3 separate regions of the Homo sapiens genome follow, and regions 1 and 2 are each linked to region 3. Evidence: fine-mapped expression QTL. A gene starts in region 3. Each other region holds a variant in brackets. All regions are shown on one strand. Distances are from middle to middle.

What was found. PIP is the estimated chance that this variant, and not a neighbour inherited with it, causes the effect. A credible set is the group of variants that fine-mapping cannot tell apart.
Region 1: its variant is the best candidate, but not a certain one, in a credible set for the expression of SLC51A in whole blood (TOPMed, PIP 0.60).
Region 2: its variant is the best candidate, but not a certain one, in a credible set for the expression of SLC51A in vagina (GTEx, PIP 0.74).

Annotation. Positions count from the first base shown.
Region 1 is chr3:196,190,266-196,193,066 of GRCh38, reverse strand. No RefSeq gene overlaps it. Among named protein-coding and RNA genes, the nearest start is that of ZDHHC19, 20 kb to the left of the region's middle. RefSeq lists enhancers at 1-603, 559-628, 1,589-2,207. The variant C/G (reference allele first, on the strand shown) is at 1,219.
Region 2 is chr3:196,677,139-196,679,939 of GRCh38, reverse strand. No RefSeq gene overlaps it. Among named protein-coding and RNA genes, the nearest start is that of CEP19, 34 kb to the left of the region's middle. The variant T/A (reference allele first, on the strand shown) is at 1,703.
Region 3 is chr3:196,215,361-196,218,029 of GRCh38, reverse strand. It overlaps SLC51A (solute carrier family 51 member A), which reads right to left and starts at 1,496. Exons shown (of 9, transcript NM_152672.6): 1 at 1,280-1,496; 2 at 94-188. The coding sequence starts at 1,317. All of the region lies in intron 2 of LOC105374304 (a long non-coding RNA gene), which reads left to right.

The sequences.
Region 1 (2,801 bases), 25 kb after region 3:
GAGATTCTTCAAGGGAATGAGAAGAGGGTCACCCAACAACGGCTCTGCCTCCTGTTAAGAAAGCAACTGCTGCTTCTGCTTTGTGGCCAGGCAGTGTTTCAGGCTGAAGGAAGGCAAAAGCAATGGTGTTCCGAGCTCTGTTCCAGGGTGGCTGCTCACAGCCTCCGCCCTCCCTGCTCCTCACCTGACCTCCCCCGCAGGCAGCGTCCCAGGCTCTGCCTCTCCACGTAGGCCTCTGCCTCACCTCTTCTCACCTTTCCACGCTTGCCTCCTCCCTTCCCCTTGCTCCTCCTCCTGTCTTTCTCTTTCTCTTCACACTCTTCTGCTCTCCCTCGATTGCTCTCTCCCTCCTTCTCTCCCTCCCACTTTTCCTGAACCACAGCTTCCAGGAACACAGAGGCAGCTGTCTGACAGCTTCTCACGTCCTGGCTGCGGTTCCAGGAAGGCCCTGGTCTGGGCATGGAAACCCAGGGCACTGTCCACCAGGCTGGAGGCGGGGCCCGCACAGGGCACCTTCGTCTGCCTCTCCCTGGGGCTTCCGCCTCCCACCTGGGCACCCACTTTCCCAGCAGCTTTCTGCTTGGGGAAGTTCTGCTGCTGAAACTGGGGATTCCCAAAGTGGAAGGGGCCCTGCTGAACAGCCAGCCACCTCCCTCACTTCTCAGCAAGAAGAAAACCAAGGCGGTGGGGGACGCAAGGCGGGGCTTCCCCAAGATCACACAGCTGAGCAGAGGCCAGGCCAGGGGGTCCCTGATCTGCCACCTGAGTCCTGGGCCCTTCCTGCCACCCCACGGAGAGGAGACGCCTGGGTCAGAGGCCCGGCCTGTCAACAGGAAGGGCACGTTCTTCCTCCTAAAGGCCTAGTGATCTGACTCCAGTGTAGCAATGACAGCAATGACAACACAGTTGAATGCTAATGGAGGTCCAGGCCTGGGGAAGCACTCGGCCTGCGTTTGCTCACTTAGTCCTCAGCCTCCTGAATGAGGCGCTGCTGTTACTCTTGTGGGTGTCTCGGGCCTGCAAAGACCAGGTGTGCTGGGCTGGGGGCTTCAGGACTACTGTTTTTTATTTTTATTTTTTTATTTTTTTGAGACGGAGTCTCGCTCTGTCGCCCAGGCTGGAGTGCGGTGGTGCGATCTCGGCTCACTGCAGCCTCTGCCTCCCGGGTTCACGCCATTCTCCTGCCTCGGCCTCCCGAGTAGCTGGGACTACAGGCGC[C/G]CGCCACCACGCCCGGACAATCTTTTGTATTTTTAGTAGAGACGGGGTTTCACCGTGTTGGCCAGGATGGTCTCGATCTCCTGACCTCGTGATCCACCCGCCTCGGCCTCCCAAAGTGCTGGGATTACAGGCGTGAGCCGCCGCGCCCGGCCCATTCAGAGCTACTCTTGCACTGATCTCCTGCGATTCCTTGACTGAGTGACCAGGGAGGAAGGTCCATGGTCTGAGGACAAGTCCTGAGGTGAACAGGGCTCCAGGCAGGATTTATTCCATGGCCCATTAGTATCCTTTGGCTGAACCTGAGTCATGCTGAACCTCATCTGTCCCCGAGTAGTGGTGGAGGCATGAGGTCAGCAAGTGAAAGCACTGACCCCTGGGCAGGGCCCTGGGCTGTCTGGGCTGGGAGACTCCCCCAGTCAGATTTAGCTCCTAGATGCCTGTTCCTCAGCCCCTAATGGGAGTGGAAAGATCCCTCCTGCCTGCCTTTTCCTGGCAGGGCAGTAAGCGGCTGTGTAGGGAGCACAGGCCGGGCATCCGGAGAGCTGGGTGGACAGGTGGCTCTGCTGCCAGCTGGATGTGTGGCCCTGGATGAAGCCCCGACCTCTCAGAGCTGCTCCGATCTCAACGTGAAGTTGAAACCAAACTCCATGCCCGGCCGACCTCACAGTGCGCTTGTAGGATCAGAAGGGTACATGATGGGCCGGGCATGGTGGCTCATGCCTGTAATCCCAGCGCTTTGGGAGGCCGAGGTGGGCGGATCACCTGAGGTCAGGAGTTCAAGACCAGCCCGGCCAACATAGCGAAACCCTGTCTCTACAAAAAATACAAAAATTAGCCGGGTGTGGTGGCGCACACCTGTAGTCCCAGAGGCTGAGGCAGGAGAATTCCTTGAGATACGGAAGTGGAGGTTGCCGTGAGCCAAGATCGCGTCATTACACTCCAGCCTGGGCGACAGAAGAAGAAAGAAGAAGAAGAAGAGGAGGAGGAGGAAAAAGAAGAAGAAGAAAAGACGAAAAAGAAGAAGAAAAAGAAGAAAAAGAAGGGAGAACCTTCATGGACTTGTATTCCTTTTCTTAGGCCAGGTCCAGGTGGGTGTGCGGTGGTTGTAAAGGAAACAGTGAGAGGGTCTGACTCAGGCGTGGGGACCTGGAGGGAGAAATTCCCTTTCTCTTCTGTCTCCATTTTCTCTCCTTGGGCCCTGAGCCTTTTGCAGGCTCTGAATTTAGATTATCTGGGGGGTGGGGGTGGTGGCTCATGCCTGTAGTCCCAGCACTTTGGGAGGCCGAGGCAAGTGGGTCATGTGAGTCCAGGAGTTCGAGACTAGCCTGGGCAATATATTGAGACCCTGTCCCTATATAATAAAATAAAAAATTAAATTAAACAGGGCATTGGGAAATGGTCAAGTCCGAGGATGGGCCACCTCATTCTGACTCCCAGGCAGACGGCCCGGCTCACCTTTCTTGGGTGACCTTCTCAGCTCCCTCTCTTCCCCACCAAGTATCTATCCCTAGGGGAAGGAGCTGGCCAGACTTGGATTTGGGGCAGAGATGGGGCCCCCTCTGCTCCCAGCTGGCGGCATAGTC
Region 2 (2,801 bases), 460 kb before region 3:
TTGAATTTTTTCAGGTGCTTTTTTGCATATTGAGATGATTACATGATTATTCTTTTAGTCTGTTCATGTAAAATTTGTGTTGATTGACTTTCAAATGTTATACTAATCTTGCATTACTAGAATAAACCTGGCATTACTGAGCAAGGTGTGAAGTCTTTTTGGGGTATATTGCCAGATTTGCTTTGTTAATATTTTGTTGAGAATATTTATATCCAAGCTCATTAAAGAGGTCGTCCAACAATTTTCTCTTTTTGCAATGTCTGGTTTTGAGTCTCGATATCAGGATTTTGCCCACCTCATAAAACATGTTGGAATATATTAACTTTTCCTTTTTTTTTTCTTTTTTGAGACAGAGTCTTGCTCTGTCGCCCAGGCTGGAGTGCAGTGGCGCGATCTCAGCTCACTGCAACCTCCGTCTCCCAGGTTCAAGCAATTCTCCTACCTCAGCCTTCCGAGTAGCTGGGATTATAGGCATGAGCCACCATACCTAGCTAATTTTTGTATTTTTAGGAGAGATGGCGTTTCACCATGTTGGTCATGAACCTCTATCGTTTTAAAAAATTTCTGAAGAATATTAATATTTTTCTTTCTTCAATATTTTGAGTCATTCACTAGTAAAGCCATCTGGACATGGAGTTTTCTTTGTAGAACGGTTTTAATTACAAATCTAACCTACAGGACTATTCAGATTTTATTCTTTCTTCTCATCTCATATTTATTTACTTGTATTTTCCAAAGCCTCTGCTGATTTCATCTAAATTATTCAAATTATTGTGCAAAGATAGTTACAACATCGTATTATCTTCTATTGTTGTAGGGTCTGTAGCAATATTCTCATTTTAATTCCTGACATTGGTAATTCATTTTTTTCCTCTTGAGAGTTTACTAAAATTTTTTTGTTTTAGAATAATTTCAGAGTCACAGAAAAGTTCTGAAGATACTACAAAACGTTTCCATATACCTCTCACCCAATTTGTTTATCCAATACATTTGTCAAAACTAAGAAAACAACATTGATACATTGCTATTAATAAACTCCAGACTTTACTCATAGTTCACCAGATATTTTCATTAGTGATCTTTGTTTCTTCCAGGATCCAATCCAGAATACTGTATTGTGATTAGTTATTACTTTCTTAGGCTTTCCTTGTGTTTCATGACCTTGATAGTTTTGAAGAGGACTGGTCAGATATTTTGTAGAATGTATTTCAGATTGGGTTGTCTTGTATTTTTCTCATTATAGGACTGGGGTGATGGGTTATTGGAAGGAATACCAGAGGTGATGTGCCGTTCTCATCACATCGTATCAAGGGGTACATACTACTTGCATGACACCATTGGTGATGTTAACCTTCATCACTCGGTTCAAGTAGTATCTGCCAGGTTGCTTTACTGTGACGTTACTATTTTTGCCTCTCCATATTTTATTTTTTGGAAGTACATCACTAAGTCCAACCACACTCCAAAGTTGAGGGAGGGCAGCAGAGGAGGATAAGATTCACTTCCTAGAATGGAAAGAATCTACACACATTATTTATAATTCTTCTTTCCCACTTATTAATTTATTTAGACATTTATTTATATCAGTATGGATGGATACAGAGCAAAACAGGAAAGGGTGGAGAAGGGATCTGAAAGTAAAGAGGCAACTGACTGGCACTAGGGCTAAGCCAATATTACTTGTTTTCTAGTTTCTTTGAGA[T/A]TCTGAGCCCAGAGTCTGGACTAATGTGTCTGTTGGATGATTAGATATGTGGCAAACTGATGTTCTGTGTCATCCAGCTTTGAGACTAAGAACAGAAATGGCCTATTGTGTTATAGTATGTGGCAAATGCATGGGTGACACAGGAAGAGAAACTGATTCCTCTTTCAGGAGCACATTAAATTAAGAAAAATGAAGACACAGAAAACAGCTTATATGATACATATGCCACACACCCTTCTTGTCATTGTCCAAATGCAGCACAGAGAACCTTGACCCAGTGCTGACGGGAGTAGTTCAGCACTCAGCTCTCAGGATACTTGGGGGAGTCAAGAACAGTGGAGGGATGGGGGATGGAAGTGAAGAAAAGTAACTTGTAAGTGACAACCAATGAATTAAAAATATAGCTTTGTATGTATCCCCAGAGCTAAGCAGTGCCTGGCACAGAGCAGCAGCTTGGTAAATATTTGCTGAATAAATGAATGTCTTAGGGATTTGCTCAAACAAGGAGTAAGATTTCTGTGTATTTGGACTTTAAATAAGCCTCAAGCAAATAAATGCATCTTTCTAGAAGTGAACAGACCTAAAAGGTTTATGATGTTGAAATCATAAGGGAAGACCGAGCTGTAATTCCCTGATTAGGACATCAGATTTGAGGATGTGGGGGTGGGTGGTGAAGCTCTAGTTTATTGATACCAAGAAACCAGTGGGCAGTTCCCAAGCAGAGTGCCCTTTGTCAGCTTAGAAACATCTAAACTTGTCCTGATGTTGCTGTCAGCTGGCTTGAGGGGTGGGGGGCAGATTCCAGCCTATTTTAGGGGTGTTAGGAAAGAGATTCCTGGTCAGTATCTCACAGGTAGGTGCTGGCACCTGGATGAGAAAGAGAGCTGAGACATACCCATCTTAGAGGGCTCAATAGCCCTCTAAGTCCAATAGTCCAATGACTTTGTGGCTATGAGTTAGCTGAAACCCTCAGTGATAACAAACAAAATCCACATAGGTGTTCTCACAGACTGGAAGCTCACAGTTATAAACAATCAGATAAAGGTTGTGGGGACAGGAAGGGAAGGCTGCTTCCTCATCACCTCTGGGCCACGGGCAA
Region 3 (2,669 bases):
AGGTGCACCAGCTCAGGGCCGCCTCTCCCCAGCTCCACTCAGCTATCCTGGTTTCCCTCCTCTCAGTTCCCTCTGAGGAGGGTCCCCACTCACCTCTCAGGAGTTGGGCTGCTGTGGGAGGCTGAGAGAAGCAGGCGGAGGGGATGCCGTAATTGGTCTTCAGCACCTCCAGAAGATCTGCTGTGTACCTGGCGAGACACCAGCCTGTGCTCAGAACCATGGGGGCTGGGGGAAGGGGGAGGGTTGCACACTGGACCCTCAACCACTCCTGAGTGCAGGACTTTGTCCATTTCCCCTCAGGGCCTCTTTCTCTCTCTTTCTTTCTTTCCTTCCTTCCTTCCTTTCACTCTCTCTTTCTCTTTCTCTCTCCCTTCCCCTTCCCCTTCTCCTTCCTTCCTTCCTTCTGCTCTCTCTTTCTCTTTCTCTCTTCCTTCCCCTTCTCTTTCCTTCCTTCCTTCCTTCCTTTTTCTTTCTTTTTTTTTCTTTTTGAGACAGGGTCTTGCTCTGTTGTCCAGGCTGGAGTGCAGTGGTCTGTCTTGGCTCATACAGGCAGCCTTGACCTCCTGGGCTCAAGTGATCTACTCAACCCCCATCCCCATGAGTAAGCTGGGACTACAGGTGCACGCCACCAGGCCCGGCTAATTTTTTATATTTTTGGTAGAGACAGGATTTCGCCATGTTGCTCAGACACTGGTCTCGAACTCCAGGACTCAAACTGGAACTGGGCTTAAACTCCTGGACTCCCGCCTCAGCCTCCCAAAGTGCTGGGATTACAGGCGCCCGGCCTCAGGGCCCTTTTCTTAGAGGGAGTGGAGAACTGGCCCAGGTGGGGGAGTAAGACAAGCTGCCACCTAGCCAGGCTGTGCCTGGCTGCCGTGCCTGAAGAGCCCACCGTGGATTCTCTCCATGCGGGTCGGGCAGCAGCCCAGGGACTGACCAGAGAGGAAGAGCAGGATCCCAGAGGAAGGGTGAGTCCTTACAGACGGACGGGCCCCCTGCTGCTGAGGGATGCTGCCATTTCCTCTGCGAATGCCTTCCACAGCCCCCGCTCTGCGACCTTTCTCTCCCCACGCTGGGGGGCAAGGCCGAGGCCCTGGAGTGTCACACCCTGGCCCAAACCCACGTTGTCCCTGAGGACCTAGGAACAGCTAGAGCATTTCCAGTCCTGTCTCATTCTGAGTGCGGCCGCCAAAGGGCTCTGGGAGGGAGAGAGGACAGGCCGCGGGATAGGGGCCACCGCTGCCCAGCGACTGGCCCAGGGCCCGCCGCCCTCACTTACCTGGGGTCAAGCTTTATCTGGGTCCTGCCCGGCTCCATCGCCGCGTTCTCTCCAGCAATCCCGCAGGCACCGGGGTGAGGAAGGGCAGGCGGGGCGGGCAGGTGGGGGCCGGGGGCAGGGTGGCTTGCCTGGGCCGGGGTGGGGGGCAAGCAGAATTGCAGAGTCTTCCCCTCTGCCGCTCTCCCTCCTTGAGCTTCCCGGGCCAACTTTCTATCTCAGAGTTCACCCCGGAGGAATTTGATCCTCTAGGCTGGCGGAGTTCCCTGTGCCTGACTCGTCCCTGCCCCCAGGTGTGGTCCCTCCCACCTCTTGGACAGGTGCCTTTGGCCACCCCTTGCCTCTGGCCCGGCCCATCCTATAGGATTTTGCTGCCAGTCTGCCCTGCCCTTCCAGGAGCCTTCTGGGGTGGGGTGGGCTCACCACGAAGCCCCTGCCCTGGGCCGGGGTGGGGACGAAGTCCTCGCTCCTCACCGCAGTGTTCCCTGGTCAGCGGCCCCTGAAGAACCTGCTGGAACTCAGGCTTGGGCACTCTGCAGCGGGGAGACTCAGGGCTGAGGCCTCGGCCGTGTTTGGTGCTGTCAGCCTGATGTGTGGAAGGGAGGACAGGCTGGAAAAGCCAGATGAGGCCGGTGTGGGTTTCCCAGACCCCAGTTCATCACATCTGGATGATGGGCTTAGCCACCCCCACGCTGGGCCGGAAGATGCTGTATTTAAGAGGCAGAGTTGCAGAGTGAGATTGCTGGGCATTTGACAGGTCTTGAAAACCTGCTGAATTACAGGCTTGCAAACGATTTTATTGGCTGATAGCTTCCCTTTTCTCTCTCTCCACATAGACTGAAATCTCTTCGAAGCCAGACACAGCATCTTGTACTGTGGTACGGTGGTACCTCTAGGTTCCTGGCACGCAGCCTGACACATACGAAGGGCCCCTTAGAATTTGGTTGCATAGCTGATGAAAGCAGCCAGCGTCTGTCAGCATGTCTGGTGTGCCAGGGCCCGCAGGACATGCAGTGTGTTCCTTAGCTTATTTAAACTTTACCACCGCGTTACAAGGGAAGTAGTATCCTTATTCCCATTTTACAGATAAGGAGGCTGAGGTCCAGAGAGGCTAAGAAACCAGGTCAGACAGAAAGCTGTGGGGTGTGGAGAGCGGCCAAAGGGGCCTGGGGGAGGGGCTCTGTTGGGGCATGGTGGAGATGGAGGTAGTGAGAAGAGGGCCCAGGAGAGGGTGCAGAGGGTCAATTCTGGGAAGGGAGAGGGGGCTTCCTGCGCTGGGCTGGTGAGGCCATACAAGCAGTGGAAGCAGTCCCTGATGGGGTACCCGGAGGACTCCCCACTCCTGTGCCCAGACACCTCAAAGTCTCTCCCAAGAGTCAAGCTGCATCCCCCT